7 linked regions of the Homo sapiens genome follow. The protein of the gene in region 4 purifies or fractionates together with the protein of the main gene of each other region. This does not show direct contact. Each region holds a gene or a part of one and is shown on either strand. Other genes may lie near its edges. The genes, in order: TPD52L1, PCTP, SLC15A1, LMCD1, NMNAT2, OSBPL11 and USP46.

What was found.
Region 1: the proteins of LMCD1 (region 4) and TPD52L1 purify together in Homo sapiens (co-immunoprecipitation; one large-scale study listed by IntAct). This does not show direct contact.
Region 2: the proteins of LMCD1 (region 4) and PCTP fractionate together in Homo sapiens (co-fractionation; one large-scale study listed by BioGRID). This does not show direct contact.
Region 3: the proteins of LMCD1 (region 4) and SLC15A1 purify together in Homo sapiens (co-immunoprecipitation; one large-scale study listed by IntAct). This does not show direct contact.
Region 5: the proteins of LMCD1 (region 4) and NMNAT2 purify together in Homo sapiens (co-immunoprecipitation; one large-scale study listed by IntAct). This does not show direct contact.
Region 6: the proteins of LMCD1 (region 4) and OSBPL11 purify together in Homo sapiens (co-immunoprecipitation; one large-scale study listed by IntAct). This does not show direct contact.
Region 7: the proteins of LMCD1 (region 4) and USP46 purify together in Homo sapiens (co-immunoprecipitation; one large-scale study listed by IntAct). This does not show direct contact.

The regions. Positions count from the first base shown.
Region 1 is NC_000006.12:125,261,773-125,264,907, forward strand, and holds the end of TPD52L1 (tumor protein D53), read left to right. Parts: intron 1-1,061; coding exon 1,062-1,190; 3' UTR 1,191-2,635; downstream 2,636-3,135.
Region 2 is NC_000017.11:55,749,657-55,753,850, forward strand, and holds the start of PCTP (phosphatidylcholine transfer protein), read left to right. Parts: upstream 1-1,394; 5' UTR 1,395-1,447; coding exon 1,448-1,588; exon of another isoform or gene 1,589-4,194. UniProt on the Homo sapiens protein: Catalyzes the transfer of phosphatidylcholine between membranes. Binds a single lipid molecule.
Region 3 is NC_000013.11:98,725,173-98,728,672, forward strand, and holds part of SLC15A1 (solute carrier family 15 member 1), read right to left. Parts: intron 1,688-3,500; coding exon 1,671-1,687; intron 1,278-1,670; coding exon 1,196-1,277; intron 1,093-1,195; coding exon 951-1,092; intron 1-950. UniProt on the Homo sapiens protein: Electrogenic proton-coupled amino-acid transporter that transports oligopeptides of 2 to 4 amino acids with a preference for dipeptides. Transports neutral and monovalently charged peptides with a proton to peptide stoichiometry of 1:1 or 2:1.
Region 4 is NC_000003.12:8,546,823-8,550,322, reverse strand, and holds part of LMCD1 (LIM and cysteine-rich domains protein 1), read right to left. Parts: intron 1,756-3,500; coding exon 1,420-1,755; intron 450-1,419; coding exon of another isoform or gene 429-449; exon of another isoform or gene 1-428. UniProt on the Homo sapiens protein: Transcriptional cofactor that restricts GATA6 function by inhibiting DNA-binding, resulting in repression of GATA6 transcriptional activation of downstream target genes. Represses GATA6-mediated trans activation of lung- and cardiac tissue-specific promoters.
Region 5 is NC_000001.11:183,411,881-183,415,380, forward strand, and holds part of NMNAT2 (nicotinamide/nicotinic acid mononucleotide adenylyltransferase 2), read right to left. Parts: intron 1-3,500.
Region 6 is NC_000003.12:125,592,698-125,596,669, reverse strand, and holds the start of OSBPL11 (oxysterol-binding protein-related protein 11), read left to right. Parts: upstream 1-1,172; 5' UTR 1,173-1,869; coding exon 1,870-2,033; intron 2,034-3,972. UniProt on the Homo sapiens protein: Plays a role in regulating ADIPOQ and FABP4 levels in differentiating adipocytes and is also involved in regulation of adipocyte triglyceride storage. Weakly binds 25-hydroxycholesterol. Interacts with OSBPL9 to function as lipid transfer proteins.
Region 7 is NC_000004.12:52,590,460-52,593,301, reverse strand, and holds the end of USP46 (ubiquitin carboxyl-terminal hydrolase 46), read left to right. Parts: 3' UTR 1-2,342; downstream 2,343-2,842. UniProt on the Homo sapiens protein: Deubiquitinating enzyme that plays a role in behavior, possibly by regulating GABA action. May act by mediating the deubiquitination of GAD1/GAD67.

The sequences.
Region 1 (3,135 bases), on a different chromosome or scaffold from region 4:
GTAAGTTAATTCCTTCATGTTTCTATGCTTAGTCAATAACAAATACACAAGAAAAAAGCCTCATAAACCATCATAACTGCATTGTAAGGAATATTCATACTGTAAGGGTGTATTAATTCCATTTCACGCTGCTGTGAAGAAATACCTGAGACTGGGTAATTTATAAAGGAAAGAGATTTAATTGACTCACAGTTCCACAGGGCTGAGGGGGCCTCAGGAAACTTACAATCATGGCAGAAGGGGAAGTAAATATGTCCTTCTTCACATGGTGGCAGGAAGGAGAAGTGCTGAACAAAAGGAGGAAAGCCCCTTGTAGAAGCATCAGATCTTGTGAGAACTCACTCACTATCACGAGAACAGTATGGAGGTCACCGCCCCCATGATTCAATTACCTCCTACCAGGTTCCTCCTTGCTAGGATTATGAGGACTATGGGAACTACCATTCAAGATGAGATTTGGGTGAGGACACAGCCAAACCATATCAAAAGGCAGTTGCCTAAGATGATGTGAAATCACCAGTGATTAAGACTTGATCCATCTTCAATTTTCAAAGCAGAAACCAGAAATCATTTTCCATTGAGCCACTCTGACTTTTCAAAAGACATTTGTCAGAAATCCAGTTTGCCCTGCTAACTCCCAAGTAGAAAAATCTAAGTTTAGGTCATGTAAGGATGTTTATACATTTGTACAATTGGAGGAATTAATAAAAAATCTAATTCCATTTTGATTAGATCAGTTCTCTGGGTGAGTGGAGATAGCTGTTCCAAGTCCATGGATCCGATTATGCTCCTGAAGGGATTAAAATCTTAGATACAGGAGAGATAAAGAGAGGGTTGCTAAAAGTGTGCAAAATTAAAGTTTGGAATCCTATCCGAGAACCCAAGTATGAATAATATTCTAGCACTCTACTAAAGGAAACAAACTTCTGTGCATTCTTTTGTCTCTAAAGATAGAAAGTATTTCTGAATTTGAAAGTAATCCAGCTTTTGGTATTCTTATAAAAACATTACAAAAATGATAGTAACAACTAACTGCATTTTTGTGGATCTGCTCATTTCAGACGAAAGTAGGCGGTACGAACCCTAATGGAGGCAGTTTTGAGGAGGTCCTCAGCTCCACGGCCCATGCCAGTGCCCAGAGCTTGGCAGGAGGCTCCCGGCGGACCAAGGAGGAGGAGCTGCAGTGCTAAGTCCAGCCAGCGTGCAGCTGCATCCAGAAACCGGCCACTACCCAGCCCATCTCTGCCTGTGCTTATCCAGATAAGAAGACCAAAATCCCGCTGGGAAAAACCCAGGCCTTGACATTGTTATTCAAATGGCCCCTCCAGAAAGTTTAATGATTTCCATTTGTATTTGTGTTGATGATGGACCACTTGACCATCACATTTCAGTATTCATAGATGACTGTCACATTTTAAAATGTTCCCACTTGAGCAGGTACACAACTGGTCATAATTCCTGTCTGTGTAATTCGATGTATATTTTTCCAAACATGTAGCTATTGTTTGCTTTGATTTTTGCTTGGCCTCCTTTATGATGTGCATGTCCTTGAAGGCTGAATGAACAGTCCCTTTCAGTTCAGCAGATCAACAGGATGGAGCTCTTCATGACTGTCTCCAGCAATAGGATGATTTACTATAAATTTCATCCAACTACTTGTGATCTCTCTCACCTACATCAATTATGTATGTTAATTTCAGCAATTAAAAGAATTGATTTTAATGACTTTGAATTCTTAATTTCTTTGTCTTAAAAGTTGCTAGTTATGATTTTACAGATGCAATTTTAAATCAACTTTTAGCCAGGTGCGGCGGCTCACACCTGTAATCCCAACTATTTTGGATGCCAAGGTGAGAGGATTGCTTGAGGCCAGGAGTTAAAGATCAGCCTGGGCAACACAGACCCTGTCTCTACAAAAAAAGAAAAAAATTAGCCAGACATAGTGTTGCTTGCCTGTAGTCCCAGCTACTCTAGAGGCTGAGGCAGGAGGATTGCATGAGCCTAGGAGTTCGAAACTGCAGTGAGCTATGATTGCACCACTGCACTACTCCAGCCTGGGTGACAGAGTGGGACACTGTCTCCAAAAATAGTAATAATAAGTAGTCAACTTTTACTGCTAATTTGGTGAACATGAGAGAGGATATGAAAATAAATATTACCTCAGCTATCCTAGGATGTTAAAATAATCTCCAATTTTAAAATTCTCTCCAATCTACATACAGTAGTAGTTAGTCAGATAAAGGATATCCAAAAAAGAGATAGCTAGAAAATGGGAGAAGCAGAGTTCTGCAACCCCTTTCAGTTTGTAAATTGTTCACATGTATGAAAATAACTGGTATTTATCAATCCACTCAGATTTCTGCACTAACTTTTATCTTATATATCATATGTATCTCTTTTCTTTTTCTAAATGGGAACATATATTTGTTATTAGGTGGCAGAGATATAGCCTTAAGATATATTTGTAAAATGCACACTGAATAGACATCCAACCTAAAAAAAATCACTATTTAAAAAGCCCATATAATATATACATATTTGTTAGCATGCTAATTGTTCATGTTTTGTGTTTATTAAATAGAAGTGATATATATGACATTTTGAAGTAAAGCACATCTGAAAAATTCTACTCAAATTAATGGAGCATGACAATCTGTGCAATCTGTACACCTAACTGAAAATCAAGGTGGTTCAGGACAACATCATCTCTGAGGCCTGGAATCTTAGCAGAGAGAATGGGGCTGTAAACTTGACCAGAGTGGACAAATGTAGACAAAGAAAGCTCACTAGCAGGGATGCTGGCATTCTCCCTTATTTGTGCTTCCAGCCTGTTGGTTGAAGTAGAGGCAGGAAACCAACCCTGCCCAGCTGGTTCTCAGGCCGTGCTGGCTCGCCCACCACAGCACACAAGTACTCAGTCTCTGTGCCCAATCTATAGCTGCCTGTTGAGTGTGAAGTGGCTAACTTGTGAAAACTCCCTGCCACCTTCTTTTTTTACCATATTCAGCACACCGCATTGTATTAGATAAAGTTATGGTACTTTAAACAAATATCTCCGTTCACCAACCAATTTCTGCACACCATAGTCTCAGCCTTATAATCTGAAAACACAATATTAGAATTGGATAGAAAAAC
Region 2 (4,194 bases), on a different chromosome or scaffold from region 4:
TATCAAATCAAACCTTTATAATGGATTCCTTGAAGATACTTGAAAATACTTCATAGCCAATAGTTTTTACACAATTGGTTTTTCAAGCAATGAATTTCCATTTAAATAAAATATGGATTTACAATACATAGAAAATTTACAAGGAGTTATAAAACAGTGGGAAAGTATGTCTAGCCTAAACTTTTGTGCATTTAGTCTAGGAAAATTTCACATCCCTCTTTCCACACCTATAAAGCCAAACAGAACCAGGACTGACTTGAGGAAAGCAATTATTTATCTCTGCTGTGTCTAACTAAGCAAGCTGCCAAATGTGATCATTTGCCTGATTGGAAAATCACATAAATTAAGACTTTGCCATCAACTTTCTTTCAAGTAAGGAAAGAAAAGCATTTCAATATAGTAATGCAAAACAAGTGGAAATTGTTATTGAACATTTACTTGGACGGGCACTGTGGAAAATTATTCCTTGTCCAACCACCTCCTCAGCTGTAACTGGTAGCACAATTCTTGACCCATTTTACAGATTAGGAAACATGAGTTTCCAGAGTTTATTGGCACTCACGTGGCTGTTACATCGTTTTGATGTTCAAACGACCTACTTTATTCAAAGTCAGGTAGTACAGTCTGCTGGTGGGAAATACAGTATTACTCAAGGGACTTCAAAGGAACAAGAAGATGTTTGAGTTGCACAGTGAGCTAAATTATGCAAGTTGCAGAAATCCTAGGTGGATAGTACGACACCTTTCAGATCAGTTTCTACCCTCAAGGGTGGCAACAACCTTGTAGATCCATTATGGATTAGGTTTCTAAACTGTTTTGGTGTTATGAACCCCTAGAGTCTTCTGGGGAATCCAATGGACCTCGTCTCAGAATAATGTTTTACAATGTATAGCAGAAAGAAGAGAAATTATATTGAAATACACTTCTGGCATTTGACCCCTTAGGATTTTTCCAGCATTTCTACTCTGCCCACCTCTCCTCTCATGTCTACCAAAGAGACTTTCTCTACTTTATTCAGAAAGGTAAATGAGAGACACTCAAACAGGTCTGTAGGTTATGGGAGTAGCAGGGAGTATGGGATAGGCTACTGAGGAGCTGTTTTTGAGGTGACATCACTGTCTCCCTTCCTTTTTCCCTTCCCTCTGGAAGCCTCCTTACTTCTCCAGCTCTTCCTTCCTTCCCCACATCAAGTCCAATTTTTCTCCTTTTACTTCTTGTCTATCCTCCTCACTCCTTGCTCAGCCCCGCCCGCTTTTCTAGGCCCGCCCCTCCAGGGCCCCACCCTCAGGCCGCTCCTCCAGTCTAGGCCCCGCCTTCTCCTCAGTTTCCTGCCAATGACGCTGGGGCAGCCGGGGCAGCCGGGGCAGCCCGGTCACCCCGCCCCCAGGCCCACACTAAGGGTGTCCGCGGCCTGCCCTCCAGGCGGAGGAGCCCGGACTGCGGAAGGATGGAGCTGGCCGCCGGAAGCTTCTCGGAGGAGCAGTTCTGGGAGGCCTGCGCCGAGCTCCAGCAGCCCGCTCTGGCCGGGGCCGACTGGCAGCTCCTAGTGGAGACCTCGGGCATCAGCATCTACCGGCTGCTGGACAAGGTAGCGGCCAACCCGCTGGAGGACCGCGGGGCCTAGAATGCGCCGGGGTCGACCTCCCCGCAGGGAGTGCGGGGCGGCAGTCGCGGAAGGGACAGGGGCGCGTCTTCTCCGGCTCAGGAAGGAGCTCCGCCCGGACCCTGTCTCAAGCTCTGGAGCTAGCGCAGGGGCGGTGCCTCCAAGTGACTGCCGTGCAGATCCAGGGGAGTTGGAAGGTCACAGGAGTTCAGCCTCAGGTCAGGCCCGACGGGGCATGTAGTTAGAAGTTAATGACAGTTGAAACGTGGGTCAGCTGGTTCCTAGGCCCGTGCACACGTCTGCAAGGGACGTTGATCCTCACTCTCCAATGCGTGTCAGTGGCATATGGGGGCTGGGGTGGGGGAGGGGCGGTATCTTAGGGCTTGGATATAGGAGGAAAAGAAACAGAACTTTTCAAGGACTGGATGTGCAGGGTGGTGTCAGGGGTTGCCGAGAAGGGCCCTACTGTTTTAGTGACTCGTTTCTTTTGGTTGTTGCCCCTTCCTTCCAAGTTGCTCTTAATAAGTTGAGTCCGAATCTTCAGGCAGGAGTAAAGATGTAGGAGGAATGGGATTGGTTGTTGAAGTCTTTGGAATCAGGTAGCCATCCAGGTGGAAGGCATTGCCCCTGAGGCCTGTCATCCAAGGCTTGTCATCAGTTGCTTTGTGTAATAGTCGCAGCATGGCAAGTAGGTTAAAAGTCGCCTGCAGGTAATGTGGGTGAAACTGAAGTTTCCTAATACAGGACCAGGATATTATAGTGTTAGAGTTAGGAGGATACCTCATGCTCACCTGGTTAAACCCCAGGTTTCATAGGTGAAAGCAACAGGCCTCAAGGGTGAAGTCACTCCTGAAATGGCCCAGATAAGTGAATAGCAGAGGTGGGATTGGAGGGTTCATGATCTTGTGAATGTCAAACATGTGGTTGCCTTTTTAGGCACTTGCATTTTTGTTTACATCAAATATAGTGTTTTTATATTTTAAAACAGAAAACAAACGTTTGCAATATTTAGAAGTTGCTCACCTGTTAAACAGGAATGAAAACTCTGCCTGTCTCATTGCAGGAATGAAAACTCTGCCTGTCTCATTGCAGGGTTGTTAGGGGGTTCAAATCCAATCTGTCAGATATGTGTGAAAATTTGATAGCTGTAAATAACTCTACAATGCACAGGACAGTGACCCCATACCTCTCCCGGGGAAGAATTATCCAGTCCCAAATTGTAATATTGCCAAGGTCAAGAAACCCTACTCTAAATAAATGGAGAATATAGGTATTATGAAGAAATTTCCTGTCTAAATACATATATATTTGCTTTGGATGCAGTCCGTCCCTCTCCAGTTAGTGGGACTGTAAAACATGCTATTTGGAATACTTACAAATTAGTAGGGCTGGCCTTTACATAATCCAGAACACAGCAGATACTGCAAGTGGCTAAGCTGCCATATTTACTTTTTTTCTGTATACAGATGTTATATCTTGATGGATTACTCACTCAACAAACTCTGAATGCTTGCTGTGTACTAGGACCATTGGGTTTAACAAGATGATCAAGAAGTTCACAGTCTAGAACAGGCAGAATTAATTTCTTAGGGTAACTTTAAAAGGTACCTTAGTTTGAAAATTGATACATTTTCAGAAAAAGTCTTTCTTTTAATTTTTATTTTTTAGAGATGAGGCCTTGCTATGTTGCCCAGGTTGGTCTTGGAACTCCTGGGCTCAAGCAGTCCTCCTGCCTCAGCCCTCAGCCTCCCAAAGTGCTGGGATTACAGGGATGAGCCACCACACCCAGCCAGGCAAAATTCTTTTATCTTCTCTGCTATTCCATTTTTCTTACCAGCCACATCAAGGCTTTGGCCAAGTTTTGTTGATTCAACTGCTCAGACGTGTCTAGCATCTGGCTTATTTCCTCCCATTTTCTTTCCTTTATCTTTGCTACTTTGGGTACTCAGCACCCCTCACTTAGAATTGCAGTGACCTCTTAACTAGTTTTTGGCCTACCAGCTCTCTGCTCCTGTCTATCCTACACCTTCCAGTGCAGTCAAACATCTGAGAAGCAGTGATCTTATCACTACCTTTTCAGTGGCCTATTGATTGCAGAAATAATAATAATCATCACTGTAATAGCTAACATTTATTGCATGATTTCTTATAATTCAGGTGCTAAGTGTTTTGGAAGTATTGATTTACTCAATCCTTGCATCAACCCTATGATAAGGTACTATGATGATCACCTTTTTACCTATATATAAATGAATGCATAGAAAGGTTAAGTTGGTTTCTCAAGATTCCAGCTAGGATCCAAACCCAGCTGTCTGCCTCCAGTCCTGTGTCTTCAACATGCTCCTGCATTGCCTCTCCAAACAGAAGGCAAATGCTGCCTGGTGGGTACACTGAACTAATTTGGTCTCAACTCACATTTCCATCATTCTCTCCCATTACCATAGACCTGACATCTTCTCCTCTAGCGAGCCCAGACCGCTGTGCCATCTTCCCTGTATACAGACGAGGCAGTTGAGGTCCAGGGAAAGTCAGTGGCATATACAAAGCACACGGCTAAGAAGTGGTGAATAAAACTGGGATTTAGATCCAAG
Region 3 (3,500 bases), on a different chromosome or scaffold from region 4:
GACTTTCATCAGATGCTTGGTCTTCCAGCCAGCAGAATCATCAACCAAATATACCTTTTTCCTTTATAAATTCCCCAGCCTCAGGTATTCCTTTATAGCAACACAAGTGGACTAAGACAGCCCACGTCATTCCTTTGGCCTGGAAGAGCCTCTACTTCCTTCTTCATTAAGTCCCAGGAAAACTTTCCTGACAACATCCCACTGGGTGTGCTCGTGGAGCCCTTCCTGGAGGGCTGGGTGACTTCTCTCTTTAGTGACCTCACACCATGTGACCTCAAGCAGCGTGAGCCCCTCAGCAGCCAAGGGGGTATTTTAGAGAGTTTCTTCATATCCCCAGACCTTAACTCCATGCCTCACACATCACTAATAATAGACAGTATCCCTGCTACTGTGTCAAGATGTGACAAAGATGCTACATTTGTTTGCATTAGGGAAAAACAAAAACCTATAGATGCTGCTTGCAGTCACTAAATGTCAGGCACTGTTTCAGGCTCTAGGGACAGGATACTGAGCAGAAACAGCGCTGTAAATGCTCTCCTAAGGGTTTGTTTCTGTTTTTAATTTGTTTTTGAGACAGGGTCTTGTTCTGTCATCCAGGCTGGGGTGCAGTGATGTGATCACAGCTCACTGCAGCCTTGACCTCTGGGGCTCAAGCGGATCCTCCCACCTCAGCCTCCCAGCTAGCTGGGGCCACAGGTGTATGCCACTATGCCTTGCTAATTTCTTTATTTTTGGTAGAGATGGGTCTCACTATGTTGCCCAGGCTGGTTTCAAACTCCTGCCTCAGCCTCTCAAAGTGCTGGGATTACAGGTATGAACCATACCACACCTGGCCTCTCCTAAGAGTTTCTGTTCTTTGATTCATCATTCCCAGATTCCACCATTCCCAACTACAAAACCTACATTTACTTTTTCGCTTGTTTGTGAACAAGAAATTTCCAGCCACTCACTTGAACTTTCCCAGCCACGAGTCGGCGATAAGAGCTCCGAGAATTGGCGTCAGGTAGCACAGAGCCACAAACGTATGGTAGATGGCGGTGGACAGGTTATCATCCCAGCTGATGAAATTTGTGAAGTACAGAATCAGGATTGCTTTTGCAGAGGGCAGGTGGAAGAGGAGGGGGAAACAAAGTTAGGACTGGTTATGGCCACTCCCGCTCTTCCCTGAAGGGTGAGAAACGGCCAATACAGTTACCTCGCATTCCATAGTAGGAAAATCTTTCGCAAAACTCATTGACCACGATGAAGAAGATGCTCAGGGGATAACCAAAGAAACTCTGACAAAAAAGAAACAAGCACAGGATTGAAATACACCCCCCACTGGTCCATAGCCACAAAGGAGCACCAGTGGCATGAAAGGCAGCCAACGCAGATTCAGTAACTTACCGGTGACTGTCTAGAGCAGGAAACTAGCATTTAATCATTTTATTCCCTACACTAATCCTTCCACATAGAGACAGCAATGAAATAAAGCATCCAGTGGTATTGTTAGTCTGAGGAGGATTATCCACAGCATTTCCTCAGGAGAGGACATCTCACATGGAAATCCGGGATCATACCCTCACTGGTTCCAGATGTACAGATCTGTTAGGTGAATGAACCCTTAGGGGTAAAACAGATGATAAAATTTACAAGATGAAGATATGTAGAGAAGGAAAAAGGGTACTCACGTGTGATTTGGACATTCCTAAAAGAAAAACAGAATCCCAATATTAAAGTCAAGCCATTACAATAGTTTTTGCTGTGTCTAAACTCAGAGCCTCTGACTTTTTAGGGTGGTCAGAGGGGCCATTCACCAAACAGCTCCAGCCCTCCCTGGGATCCCGGCCCCAGACTCATGCTTCTTATCTGAGGTGGGGCCTGGCATCTGTATTTTCTTTTAAGAAGCTCCTCAGGCAATTCTCGTATGCAGTCAAAATTGAGAAGCAGCAGCTCAGAGAATCAGGCCTAAACCATTTCCTCCTGAAACACTTCAAAGGCCGCCCATCGGGATAAAATCCACACATTCTAGCATGTTCTTCAATATCTGACAAGTGTTTTGGTGGGGATGAAATTTCTGTAATATAAAATGCTTCTGAGTGCCTGACACACTGTGCACACTCAACCGCCACCTCCTATGGCTTGGGCCCTGCCTGCCAGGCTCACCCCATGATTTAAGTCTTGCCACCGATATTCCCTTCCCAAATCATCTCTGATGTGCCTACATCACCATACTGTAATGATGGGCAGTTTATATTTTTGCTTCCCTTCTGGACCAGGTTCTGAAAGCAGAAGAATCATGTGCCATCCATCACACCAACATCCCCACTTTCAACGTCCTGTACAATACCTACCACTGGTAGGGGGTTATGTCACAAGAATGAATGAGAAGAGCAGGAAGAAACAGCCTGAGAATACAAGGGAGCTGGTGCACGTCAAGTCCAGTGGACTCTCCCATGTGCATCCTAGGAGCGCCTCATCCCCATCCCGTCAGCACCTGCTCTTCTGTCTCCCCGGAATTTTGGCAAGAGCTGAGCTGTGCCCTTGTCTCTAGTCTTTACACCTCCTCACTCTGCTCCTACACAAACACATTGCCCTGTGTTCATCCGTGTCTATCACATACTACCCTGTTTCCCACAGGACATCCATCCCCTTCCCCCTCACTCACCCCGATTTCCTTATATTAGAGTTCTTTGTTGCCAGGGCTCCCTGAACATGCTCCACCTCCATTAGGAATCTAGGAATCGGTGACCCCATAGCAGTGGGTCTCACACTGGAGTGTGCCTCAGAATCACCAGAGGGCTTGCAAGAACAGATGGCTGGGCCCCATTCCTGGAGTTGTTGATTCTGTAGGCCTGAGATGGACACTTGAGCTTGCATTTCTAACAAGCTCCCAGGTGTGGGTGCTGCCACTGGTCCAGGCAGTGTGCTTTGGGAATCACTACACTGGAAAATTATTCTTTAGACTGTTCTTTTCCCAGTGTTTGTTCTTGGCAGCTTTGTCAAAAATGAGTTGGCTATAAATGGATGCATTTATTCCTGGGTTCTCTTTTCTGTTCCATTGGTCTATGTGTCTGTTTCCATGCTGATTTGGTTACTACAGCTTTGTAGTATATTTTGACATCAGGTGGTACCTCTGGCCCTATTCTTTTTGCTCAGGATGACTTTGGCTTTTCGAGGCCTTTTGTTGTTGTATATGAATTTTAGGATTTTTTTCTATTTCTATGAAAGTTGTCGTTGGATCTTGTCATTTGCAGCAATACAGATGAAACTGGAGGACATCAGGTTAAGTGAAATAAGCCAGGCACAGAAAGATAGATATCACATATTCTCACTCATATGTAGGAGCTAAAAAATTGATCTCATGGAGGTAGTAGTGGGTAGAATGGTGGTTACCAGAGGATGGGAAGGGTAGGTGAAGGTGGGAGGATGAAGCAAGGTTAGTGGATACAAAAACACAGTTCTGTAGAAGGAATAAGAGCTGGTGTTTGGTAGCACAACACGGTGACTACAGTTAACAA
Region 4 (3,500 bases):
AAAAGTTAATTGCCATAGAAACAAATGAAGACACTTGGTTGATGGGGCAGGAGGAGCAAAAGGTAAAACAGGGGCTGGGGACCAGAAACGCAGTACACGCTAGACCCACGTGGTCCAGCCTCAAGCATTCCTTTCGCCTTCTGTGGGGCAGTTTAAGACAAACCAAGCCATGAGGCTTTCATCTCCCCAACTCTGGCTTCTCCTTTCTGTTTTCTCAAAATGGCCCCCAGTGACTCACTCCTCAGCAGCACTTCTTCCACACTGCCACTTCCTATGGGTTGAACATCCCCTCCAAACACTCAGGTTGAAACATAATCCTCTGCATGGCAGTATTGAGAGGTGGGGCCTTTAAGAGATGATTGGGTCGTGAGGGCTCAGGTCCTCAGGAATGGATTAATCCACTTATGGCTTAATAGATTAATGGGTTATCACACGAGTGGGACTGGCTTCTAAGAAGAGGAAGAGAGACCCGAGTTAGCACACCCAGCCCCCTTGCCACATGATGCCCTGAGCCACCTCAGGACTCTGCAGAGAGTGCTCACCAGGAAGAAGTCCCTCACCAGATGCAGCCCCTTGGCCTTGGACTTCTCAGCCTCCACAGATGTATGAAATACATTCCTTTTCTTTATAAATTACCCAGTTTCAGGTATTCTGCTATAAGTAACAGAAAATGTACTAAGACACTGCTAGAGGAAACTTTTGTAAGCACAGCATGGACCATGTACCTCTGACCAAAAGCCTGTCTATGACCTTTGGAATAAAGTCCTAACTAAGTTCATGGCATTCTGCAGTTTGGGGACAGTGTCCTCTGCTTGTTTGATTTCCTGGGGCAGTGCAGCTAATACAAGCTAATCAGTATTTGACTGATGAATGGATGGATGGAATGAACCCTCCAGGAATCCAGCCTCTGCTGCCCTCCCTAGCCTCATGTCCCCAGCTCCCCAAGCATGCCACACTTTCAATCACGTGGGACTTCTTTTAATCTTCTAAATGCACTGTGCTTTCTTGAACTCCTGGCTCTTTTTGCAAATGCTCACCTCTTTAAGGGGGTACACATCCTCCCCTCAAAGCCTGAAGGCTTGGATGACCCCTAGACATTCTTCGTAGACCAGCTTGTACCTCACCAACTTCTTGAAGCTTACCCTCACCACCAAGCAGGCTTAGATGTCCCTTCTCTAAACTGTTTCGGTTTTGCCTGTGACCGCCACTGGACTATGAGCCTTTCAAGGGCAGTGGTATTGTATCATTTTCCATGGGACAGTGCCTGGCACAGACTAAATGAGCAATCAATATCTGCTGAATGCACAAATTCATGAATAAATGCATGAATGAGGGAACAAAGCCCCGTGATGGGGCCCTGACTGTCCAGCCCTGGGCCTGCATGGTTTCAGCCTGGCTGGAAGCATGGGAGAAACTTACGTATTCCACTTCTTTGGACGGGTCACTGAGACTGCCGTTGGTGGTAGCAGCAGTGGTCTCTGCCCCCTCTGGCTTTTCCTGCTGCTTCCCCTCCTCCTTGGGCAAGCCACCCTGCCCCGGGAGGGCCACTTCTCCCACGCCGAGGGCCTCGCTCTTATATTGCTTGACAAATTCTTCCATCAGTTTCAACTCATTCTCCAAAAGTCCACGGCAGCGCGAGGGATCCTGGTCATAGATGGGGAGCTGGTGCATGAGCTGGCGGCGGCGGTAAAAGGCACCCTCTGTGCCTGTCACTGGCTGCTTCTCCTTGGGGATGAGCTCCATGTACTGCAGTCCCTAGGGAGGAGGAGGAGGAAGAGACAACATGATGTGGATGGGGCTTCATCAGTCAAAGAAACTATGACAGAATCTACCTAAAACTGAAAATGCATTCTCTTCCAGCATTCTCAGCAACTGAAAGACCCACAGTCTTTATTTTCTTAACTTAATGCAGTTAGATTACTTTTGTAATTTTAGAAAATTACAAAAGCAATACTGTCCATTGTGACAAATAAAACACACATGAGAGAAAAAACTTTAGTAAAGGAAAAACACGCATCCCTTAGCTACCTTGTGTATGTAGGGAGTGTTCTGTGTCTCAATCTTGGTGAAAGGGCCATGGAAATGTATCTGTGTCAAAGCTCATCAAGCTGTACACATCAGATGCACGCACTTTGCCATATGCATACTGTATGATCGTGTGCTACATGACGGCATTTCAGTCCACGATGGGCCACATATACCATAGTGGTCCCATAAGATTATCATACTCTATTTTCACTATACCTTTTCTAGGTTTAGATATGTTTATATACACAAATACTGACTGACCATTGTGTTACAATTGCCTATAGTATTCAGTACAGTCACATGCTGTACAATTTGTGGCCTAGGAGCAATAGGCTATACTGCGTAGCCTAGATGCGTAGCAGGCTACACCATCTAGGTTTGTGTAAGTGCATTCTTTTCTTTTTTTTTTGAGATGGAGTCTCGCTCTGTTGCCCAGGCTGGAGTGCGGTGGTGTGATCTCGGCTCACTGCAAGCTCTGCCTCCCGGGTTCACGCCATTCTCCTGCCTCAGCCTCCCGAGTAGCTGGGACTACAGGTGCCCGCCACTGCTAATTTTTTTGTATTTTTAGTACAGACAGGGTTTCACCGTGTTAGCCGGGATGGTCTTGATCTCCTGACCTAGTGATGCACCCGCCTCGGTCTCCCAAAGTGCTGGGATTACAGGCATGAGCCACCGCGCCTGGCTGTGTAAGTGCATTCTTTGACATTCACACAAAGACAACATCACCTGAGGACACATTTCTCAGAACGAAACCCCAGCATTAAGTGGTGTATGACTGTCCTTTGTTTTAAAAAGGATTTTAAAAACTTACACCTTATTGGCTCATGGTAACAGCTTGCCAACAACTTTGTGTTTATCGTTCCAGACAATAGTATATTTATTAAATAAGGGCACCCAGTCTTCTTTCTGCCTGGAACAAATAACAAGTAGGGTTGTACTTAATGTATTTAAATGCTATTTTCTGTGCGTGTGTACCATTTAACATGAGTCCTTGGTCAGTGGGTTCTGTTTCTCCTGTGACTGGGCCAGCCCATGTCATGGTGTGGGACAGGGAACAATCTTGCGTGTGAGAAAGAGACACTTGTTTGCATCTGCTATTGTGTGCTCTATCTGTTGGTTAAGTAGCTAGCTGTCTACTTGCTAATAATAATCATTATTTTATTGCTTATTCTCCAAGGAACACTGTAGTTTTCAATTTTGGATGGCAGTGGAAAGAAAAAGGAGTCTACATTTACTCATGGGCTAGGTTTTCCATCAGAATTTGAATAAAGCTCATTTTGCTCTGTTCTCTGACTTTCAATTAATGGTAATAATTACATTTACTAGTTTGCCTCTATCACCAAAGAAAAGTTGCTGCTTTTAAACCTCTTCTTTAGTATCATTTGCTAGACGGTAGCCAGTTGATAAAACTCTTAACAGTATAATGACAAAAGTTATGCCAGCTGGCTGCCCTCACAAAACCTGTGTCCCAC
Region 5 (3,500 bases), on a different chromosome or scaffold from region 4:
AGTGGACAATGAGGAGAAGGTTACATTTGAGTAAAGAATTGGAGGAGGGGAGCGAATGAGACATGGGCTAGGTGGGGAAGGGCATTCCCAGCAAAGGGAACATTCAGCACAAAGACTCTAAGGCCAAAGCAAAGATGTTCCATGGGGTTAGCTAAGAATGAAGTGGAAGAGATGCGTTAGGGTGGAGGTGGGGGGCAGAGTGGCTGATCATGGAGGCCTGTAGGCCATGATGATGACTTTGACTTTGATTGACAGAGATACGGAGCTCTGGAGGATTTGGAGCAAAGGAGCAACATGATCTGACTTAGATTTGGCTTACATTTTGAAAGGATCACTCTGTTTTTTTGTTTGTTTGTTTATTGAGACGGAGTCTCGCTCTGTCTCCCAGGCTGGAGTGCAGTGGTGCAATCTCAGCTCACTGCAACCTCCGCCTCCCGGGTTCAAGTGATTCTCCTGCCTCAGCCTCCCAAGTAGCTGGGACTACAGGCATGTGCCACCACGCCCGGCTAATTTTTTGTATTTTTAGTAGAGATGGGGTTTCACCTTGTTAGCCAGGATGGTCTCGATCTCCTGACCTCATGACCCACCTGCCTTGGCCTCCCAAAGTGCTGGGATTAGAGGTGTGAGCCACCATGCCCGGCCAAAAGGATCGCTCTGATAATTTGTTAAGAAATGAGTGTTGCAACCAAGAGTGGAAGCAGAGAGACCAGTTAAGAAGCTATTGCAATAATTCAAATGAAAGTTAACAGTGGTTTGCACCAGGGATGTAGATGGAGAGAGGTTGTTGGTCTTAGTTATATTTTGAAGATAAAGAGATTCCAAAACATTTGGACATAAATAGTGTGTCCAAAACAGGGAATAATTAAGCATTAGTCCAAGGTTTTTGGCCTAAGAAACTGAAACAAGAATAAAACTATAAGCATTTAGTCTTATCTAGGGAATATGCTTTACTATCTCTTCTACTGCCTGGTAAATATTAAATGAGGTCAATATGTTGCAGCATGTCTATTCATGTGGAGGCAATTTGATGTAGGAGGAAAAACAGAAAAAGAATGCTATTTAGCTGCCATCACTTCCAGGGGTTAGCCTCAGAGTCTTGCTCCTTTGCTACTTCCTCCTCTTAACCTCTTATTGCCATGATTATAAGAATTTTCCTGGCTGGCTCACTTGTATAATGCTAAAGAGAATTATGCATTAAATTTAAGAAAAAATAGCTTAATGGCAGTATGGTTTAAAGAAGTTCAAATAAAGTGGCTTCATGATTAGGATGATAATGGGGAAGATGATGATACTAGTAGTGGTCGTAATATTTGCCTTTGCTGCAGAGTTTACAAATCATGGAGACACTGGAAGATGTAAAGGGAGGAGGGAGCCAATACCAGGAGGATGGCCTTGGTCACAGCCAGAAATGACCAAATTCAATTCTTTTTCTGGGCTCAAGCGGACCTTTCACCTCAGCCTCCTGTGTAGTTAGGACTACAGGCACCATGTCCTCCTGTTTTTGGTCACATTCTCCTGGATGCTGGTGGAGGGACTACTGCTGGAGAGCACGGTGGTGGCTGTGAGCATGCACCCAGCCTAAGCATGAGACTCTACTATGCCACAGGCTGGGGTACTTGGAAAATGATTATAGTAGATCTTGTGCCATTTGAGTTATCAGTATTGTGGGTCTTTTCGAAGAAATATGATTTTTCTAAAGAAATATTAATTTTCTTTTCTTTCTTTTTTTTTTTTTTTTTTTTTTGAGACGGAGTCTCGCTCTGTCGCCCAAGCTGGAGTGCAGTGGCGCGATCTCGGCTCACTGCAAGCTCCGCCTTCCGGGTTCGCGCCATTCTCCTGCCTCAGCCTCCTGAGTAGCTGGGACTACAGGCGCCCGCAACCACGCCCAGCTAATTTTTTTGTGTTTTTAGTAGAGATGGGGTTTCACCGTGTTCGCCAGGATGGTCTCGATCTCCTGACCTCGTGATCCGCCCGCCTCGGCCTCCCAAAGTGCTGGGATTACAGGCATGAGCCACCGCGCCCGGCCTAGAAATATTAATTTTCAAAAACAGCGGCTGCCATAAGTTTCCAATTCCAATTGTTCTCACTGAAGCTTATTTCAGAAAGCTCTCCCTGATATTAACCACCCGACCTGAATGAATGACTCCTTGCAACCTGGTTATTCCTCTCTGTCAGGCATTAGACCTCTGACTGGCTTAAAAGGAGGAAAGATGCTAGACTTTGGTAATTTTTGGAGACAATATCAGAGCGCAGTGAAAAGATAATAGTTTTTGGAGTCATGGATTTAAACTGCAGCTAGCAGAAACAGGAGTTTGAGGCTGCAGGAAGCCATGACCCTGCTGCTGCTCTACAGCCTGGGCAACAGAGCAAGACCCTATATCTACAAATTAAAATAGAAAAAAATACAAAAAATAGCTAGAAATATTTCTGCTGTGATGAAATTCCCCAATTCCTCTGTTTTTGTTTATATAGCCAAAATAATCTGAGCTGTCCTTTCTTACTTTTCTATTTAAACTTGCTCTCTGACTTCCCAGTGGTAGATTTATTGACAAATATAGCTATAAATGTAAAGAAAGCTACATTAAATTATAATCTCTACATAGTTAAAAACTAAGCAGTTACATTTTTTAAAACTTCCAATTCCACATTATCTTCTTATGTAATGAGGCAGACCCATGAGATATGACATCACTCATTTATGAGTTTACTTTGCCAAAAACTTTTACTCATCCCTGAAAGCATTTTAGTTACAGTTGAGTATACAAGTGTCAAATATCTCTCACAAATACTATTTTTTCCTGTATGTTTCTATAGTTTCAAATAGGAGAAATAATATCAACTTCCCTTTCAGAGTAAAAGAAAAGTTCATTCTAAAAATATTTACAAATATTGAGAATTGTACAAGTGCTACTTTACAAAGATGAAGAGTGAGTTTTGAATGTCACTTCTCTTTTTGTTTACAGTCTCTCTTTTTCCTTTGATAAGAAATTGAATTTCAGGATATAGGAGCTCTATTTAAAATGCCTAATTTCAAAGTCTTGTTTGTGTCTGTTTTTTAAAAAAAAATTATTACAAATTTCAGTCACCTTAAAGAAAGCTTGAAAAAAAATTTTTAAGGCAGAGTCTGGCTGTATTACCTAGAATAGAGTGCAGTGTGCTATCTTGGCATACTGCAACCTCTGCCTCCCAGGCTTCCACCTCAGCCATCCTCCCACCTCAGCCTCCACAGTAGCTGGGACTACAGGCATGCAACACCATACCTGGCTAATTTTTATATTTTTTGTAGAGATGGGGTTTCACCATGTTGCCAAGTCTGGTCTCAAACTCCTGAGCTCATGTGTTAATGTCCATCTTCACCTCCCAAAGTGCTGGGATTGTAGGAGTGAGCCACCACACCTGGCCAAAAGTTTGATAATTTAGTTGTATTAATTATTTCCGTGTTGTCACAGAGAAAATTTTTAAAGCAATTTAAAAGGAGGAAATAGTTCATAAATAACTGG
Region 6 (3,972 bases), about 120 Mb from region 4:
ATTACGGGCACGCACCACCATGCCCGGTTAATTTTTGTATTTTTAGTTGAGAATGGGTTTCACCATGTTGGCCAGGCTGGTCTCGAACTCCTGACCTCAAGTGATCCGCCCACCTCGGCCTCCCAAAGTGCTGGGATTACAGGCGTGAGCCACTGTGCCCAGCCTCAAGTCATGTTATTATAAACTAAAATTAGCAATTAGGAGAGACTTTAGAAATCTACCCATGCACTCTTGTTTTACAAATCCAAAACCAAGGCCTAAACAAGGTGAAAGATTTGTCTGGGGTCTGGAAGAGTACCTAGCTCTGTTCTGAGATCTCTAATTTCCATGACAGCTTCTTTTTAATTTATAATAATGATTGGCTTTACTCCAATGTCATGCTTGCCCCCCCCCCACCCCAAGTAACTAAAACGTACAGATGTTTGCTTCGTTCTTGTACTTTCTTATTTTTGTAAGCTTTCTTCCTAAAATGCCTGGAACGGCCCCTCAAATGGAAGGCTAGGACGTGGTTAGGAAGGCGGGCACTCGGCCGGGCGCGGTGGCTCACGCCTGTAATCCCAGCACTTTGGGAGGCCGAGGCGGGCGGATCACGAGGTCAGGAGATCGAGACCATCCCGGCTAAAACGGTGAAACCCCGTCTCTACTAAAAATACAAAAAACTAGCCGGGCGTAGTGGCGGGTGCCTGTAGTCCCAGCTACTTGGGAGGCTGAGGCAGGAGAATGGCGTGAATCCGGGAGGCGGAGCTTGCAGTGAGCCGAGATCGCGCCACTGCACTCCAGCCTGGGCGACAGAGCGAGACTCCGTCTCAAAAAAAAAAAAAAAAAAAAGGAAGGCGGGCACTCACACACCAGAAGGGAACTCTCTAGTGCTGCTGGCTCCTTTGTTTCTTCCTCCTTCACTGTCCGGGTTCCTCGTTCCGTTGCGGCGCCCTCCCTCGCCCTCCCTCGCCCATCAGCCAGTCGCCCAGCTACCAGCTCCCAGAGCCTCCGCCTCCTTCAGGGACCCGCCGCCCTGACCCAAGATGGCGCCAGACGCTTCGGCTGTGAGGGAAGTGAGCTCACGCTACTCCGGAAGGGAAGGCGGGAAGGGAGCAGGGGGCGGGGGGTGGCTGACCCGCTGTGGGGCTGTGGGGCTGTGGGGCTGTGGGTGGGGCGGCGGCCGCGGCCCTGGCATTCGCGCTTGGGTCTGGAGATAGCGCGAGAGACTCACCGGCTCCTGGGAACCCAGTCGAGGGCCCGGGCCAGGGGCATAAGAGGAAGTTGTCCCGAGTGGCTCGCCTCTGGCCCTGGGAGAGGCGGCCCCGGGAGCCGGCGTCCCGCCCCCGGCGGCCTCATTCCCCGACCCTCCTCCCCGGCTGCGCGCGCCGGCCCTGGCTGTATCTCGGGGGCTGCGGCGGGAACTGCCGAGCGGGCTTGACTGGACGCACTGCCTGAGGACCTGCGGAGGAGACGAGGGAGCGCGGCGGGTCAGCCCCGAGGTTAGGCCGCGGGTCCCCTGTCCGTGGCGCTCCGTCCTTTTCCCAGCCGTCTTGGCTACAGAATCTGCGACCTCCCCACACTCCTTCTCTTTTGAGTATGTCACTTAAGTCTTCTCGCCGGATGCTTTTTCCTCCTTGCTTTTGCCGGAAAGGAGAGAGATACATGTGAAGGATATCTGTCCTCGTTGCTTCCCCTGCCCTCTCAAAAGTTTAACTTCTGTGGGAATGTGTATCTTCCTTTTCTGGACCATTTGACAGTCCCGCCCCAGCCGCCGTGTGATTTAGCAACCGGTATCATATTCAGATCAAATCTTAAAAAAAAAAAGTCACCTACAGAACTACAGAATTGTTCTCTCCCGCTCAAGAAGGGCAAGTGGACTTTGGCGTTAAGATGCAGGGGGGTGAACCAGTGTCCACAATGAAAGTCTCGGAGAGCGAAGGAAAGCTGGAGGGCCAGGCCACAGCGGTGACCCCGAACAAGAACAGCAGCTGTGGAGGTGGAATCAGTAGCAGCAGCAGCAGCCGCGGTGGCAGTGCAAAAGGCTGGCAGTACAGGTATGCTCCTTTCTCCAAAATTATTTCCCGAGGTGGAGGTAGGGGTGAATATGCCCTGGAGGCTGCATCCCGCAATTGTTGAAAGATAAAAGTTTTTTCACTGGCTTCCAGAAGCTACTGATACATCTCGTTTGGATCTGGGACCTCGCCTAAAAGATTTAATCCATTCATTTGTTCATTCAACAGGTATTTATGGAAGGCCTTTTGAGGAACACAGAAATGTATCCCTGAACTTCCTCTACAGTCAGAGAGTTAATGCTTCCTCAGATTTAATTCTGTACTCACTTCTGCTTTTGCCTATGTTGCAATTTATTTACAAGCCAGCTTTCTCTGATAGACTGCGAGGGCAGGAACTGTTTAACTCAGCTTTCTCGAGAGGGTAGCAAATACTGGTGCTCAAAACTTACTTGTCCAGAGCTTCTCCAGAATCAGAAAAGATTCTTGCCCTGAAGGTATTTGTGACTTGGAAAGGGGAATGTACATAAGTAATTGGAATGCAAGGACAAAGGTAGAGATCCTAATGCCTCTGATAAACTAAACCTGAGCCTGGAGATGTTCAGTTTGCGTTGCTCAGGCCACTTCAATGCTCTCTGTGTTGATGAGAAAGTCTATATTTGTTAATTTTCACTAATATGAATGAACAACTTAAGGAACAGGAGGAGAGTCCTGGAGAGGCAACAAGTTTTGTTTTTGTTTTTTCATATATGAAGTGTAGGGAGAAAGAACTATCCAGAACCTTAAGAATGAATGAAACAAACCAGCACATCCCATCGTATTGGAACTAAAGGGATGAATTCTTAAGTTTTGATTGACTCCTATGTGCCTAACTGTAGTCCTTTTTAGCCTTTGTGCTTATTTGTGCTTGTGAAATTTTTGTGAAACTTGGAAGGGATTAAAGCCAAGATTTTGTGAGGGATATACATTTATCATGAATAATATTCATATGTATGAAATATGCATGACTATATTAACATATAGAAGTGAAGTATAGAAGATTATAATTTTTTTTTTTTTTTTGAGGCAGAGTCTGGCTCTGTCACCCAGGCTGGAGTGTGGTGGCGCGATCTCGGCTCACTACCACCTCCACCTCCTGGGTTCAAGCGATTCTCGTGTCTCAGCCTCCCGAGTAGCTGGGATTACAGGCGTGCGCCACCACACCTGGCTAATTTTTGTATTTTTAGTAGAGATGGGGTTTCACCATGTTGGCCAGGCTGGTCTCGAACTCCTGACCTCAAGTGATCAGCCCTCCTCTGCTTCCCAAAGTGCCGGGATTACAGGCTTGAGCCACCGCGCCTGGCCAGAAGATAACTTTTTATTGGTAAGTGACTGTAGGATAAGAAGATATATTCAGTTAGTTTGAGAGGTCTAGGCCCGCTTTTGGAATCAGCATGATTTTTTTGTATGTGTGTGACCTGTGGCAGGGGCCGCGGGTCCCCTGTCCGTGGCGCTTCGTCCTGACCTGCTATGGGGCTGTGGGTGGGGCGCCGCCGCGGCCCTGGCATTCACATTTGGGTCTGGAGAGAGCCGGGAGTCTATTAAGTTGGTTGTGAGGTGCCTTCGAATGTTATTTTTGGTTTACAACTTTCTTGATGATATTGTTTGCAGCACAATGGTTTTTAATTTTCATGAAGTCTAATGAGTTTTTTCTTCTCTTGTTATAGTTTTGTGTCACATCTAAAAAAACATTGTGAAGTTTAAGATGACAAAGATTTACACTTATGTGTTTGTCTAGGAGTTTTGTTTTAGTGCTTATGTTTAGGTTTCTGATGCATTTTTAGTTCATTTTTCTTTATGATCATTTTTTTTTCTTTTGTGAAACATCTACATATGTGTTTTTTATACATTTCCTGTTAGGTCTTAATATTTTTCTTTTTAATATGCTTGATATCTCTTATTAAAATGTCAACATTAAATACCAATATTCCTTTAAAAATATTTT
Region 7 (2,842 bases), on a different chromosome or scaffold from region 4:
TGGGACTGTGTTTTTCTTTCCTAGGCCTCACTTTGTCCTGGGATTTATAGGACAGGCCTGTCACTACCAAGGTGACACAAATTCTAGAGAATGTATTTTCCCATTTCTTCAAATTTCCTTTCCTCTCTTTTTATTGATACTTAAAATACCTTTACTAAAAAAATGAAGCCTTCCATTTCCATTCCCTTATATTTACATGAAGATAAAAATACTTACTAAGTCGTTGTATTTGTCCATTCTGGCAGTGCTATAAAGACATACCTGAGCGTGGGTCATTTCTGAAGAAAAGAGGTTTAATTGGCTCATGGTTTTATGGGCTGTACAGGCTTCTGTTCTGGGGGAGGCCTCAGGAAACTTACAATCAGCAGAAGGCAAAGGGAAAGCAAGCCCATCTTACATGGCAGGAGCAAGAGGAAGAGAGCAAAGGGGGAGGGGTTACACACTTTTCTTTCCTTTTTTTTTTTTAAGATGGAGTCTCACTGTCACCCAGGCTGGAGTGCAGTGATGAGATCTCAGCTCACTGCAACCTCTGCCTCCCGAGTTCAAGCGATTCTTCTGCCTCAGCCTCCCAAGTAGCTGGGACTACAGGCATGTGCCACTATACCCGGGTAATTTTTGTATTTTCAGTAGATACAAAGTTTTCTCATATTGGCCAAGCTGGTCTGGAACTCCTGACTTCAGGTGCCTCAGCCTCCCAAAGTGCTGGGATTACAGGCAAGAGCCACCTTGCTCGGCTGGGGTTACACACTTTTAAACAACCAGATCTCGTGAGAACTCAGTCATGAGGCAGTACTAGGGGGATGGTGCTTAACCACCTATGATGCAATCACCTCCCACCAGGCCCCACCTCCAACACTGGGGATTACAATTCAACATGGGATTTGGGTGGAGACACAGAGCCAAACCGTATCAGTCATTTTTCTTTTACTGAAGGAAAATTTTGGTTGTGGGGTTAGTACTAAAGATAGCCCATGTAGACTTTTTCTGAAGATACCCCAAGTGGAGAGATTTTTAATTAGGCATTTATTTGGCACCTATTGCATTCTAGGCATTGTGATAGGAGCTGGGGGATAAAAAGGTGACACAGATTGGGTCCCTCTTATGGACTCGTTTTTTGTCTCAGAAGACAAGTCTGGGTGAGAAAGAAATTTAAAATTTAAGTTGTGGAAATAACACGTGTGGGGGAAACTCCTTGCAATTCAGCACAGTTTGGTATTCAGCCCCAGCCTCAACATGCAGATGGCACTGTTGGATGAAGCCACACCATCTTTTTTCCTGGGAGCCCCACACTCTTCCCAGCCTGCCTTCTAGCTCAGGGACAACACATTTTGAAAAACAAAGTATAAATCGATTATGTTGCAACAATGAACTTCACGTTTTGCCTCTTCTCATGTTAAAAGAGCCAGTATCATGAAAGCCTCAACAGTGAGCTTTATGAATCAAATATCTGTTATTTCTAAACAATCTGTTTACATTATGACCAAATAATTAGAGCCTATCTAGACTTACCAAAATAAGATAGGGCATAAGCGATTTATTGGTGCATCAGCCTTTGTTTGCTTTTTAAGGTTCCTTTATGTTTTAAAGGGATTTGAACAAAAGACATCAGGAGCTTACAAAGGAAAAATAGCTTCATTTTGGTTATGAGATACCAGAGTCAGAAATGACATTAGATTGTATAGAAAAGACTTCTAATTGTGTGCTTACTTCCCACATGATTATAATAAACTATATATTAACAACCTTGGGATCGTACTCAGGTTGTCAATTACACGGATGCATCTTTCACTTTTTTCTTTCCCAAGAGTGAGAGAAAGAGTGAGGTTGTGCTTAAGGCAGTGTGGAATTCTACAGAAGCTCTTCTTGGAAAAGGAGTTCAGGCACTTGTGTTGTAGACTGCAGTCTGATTCTGTTCTTACTTCCTCTCAGCATAAGGGAGCTTTGAAAAGAAAACTCAGACTTGTATCCGACTTGACCAGAAGCAAAATAACTTGATCATTGAAGCCACTATTTCTGTGTATTTGATCAAGTCCTCCTCTGGAATCCAATGCAGCCATATTCATATTTCGGTCTCTCTTAATGGACCTTGCTGGAAAGAACATTCTGTGCTAAGAAAATGGAAAATAAACGTGAGAAAACTTTAAGAATGAGCCTTCACACCTCCTGCAGCAGGTGATAGCTCTGTACTTCAGAGCTTGTCTCCAGGTTGAGAATTACCTGTTTTCCACTCTGAGGGGATTAGAAAGATACTGTTTTAATGGGTTATAAAACTTGTGTGAAGAAGATTGGCCTTCTCCACCTCTCCTGTGAAATAAATTGTTTGAAAACTCTTTGAAGAGAAATGGCTTCAGTATATTGTTCTATCTCTGCTACCCCAAAGCCCAGAGAACAAATATTAAGTATAAATTGCTAGGCTAGGTATGTCATATGTGGCAGCTTTGACATGTAAACCAAAAGACTGAGCCAAGTCTCAATCAATGTACAGGTTATTTTGCCAAGGTTGAAGACACACTAGGGAAAAGAGACACAAGCTACAGTATGATCTATGGCCCCTACTTTCTCCAAAGAGGATTTTGAGGGCTTCAGTATTTAAAGGGGAAAAGTAGGCAGGAGGAGAAAGGAGGAAAGAACAAAAAAAAGAGGGAGAGCATGGTCACATTCTTAGGAGGCTTTGATTCACACTCACTGAATCCATGTGTTGCACGTGGCAAGGAATGGGTAGAGGAACAGTCGATTATGTATGTCCCCTGCTCAGTAAAACTGCACTTTACAAAAGATAAACAGAATAGGGGAAGAAGTCAAATATGCATTTATCTCAGGCTGGGCAGTGGGGATGGTTTGT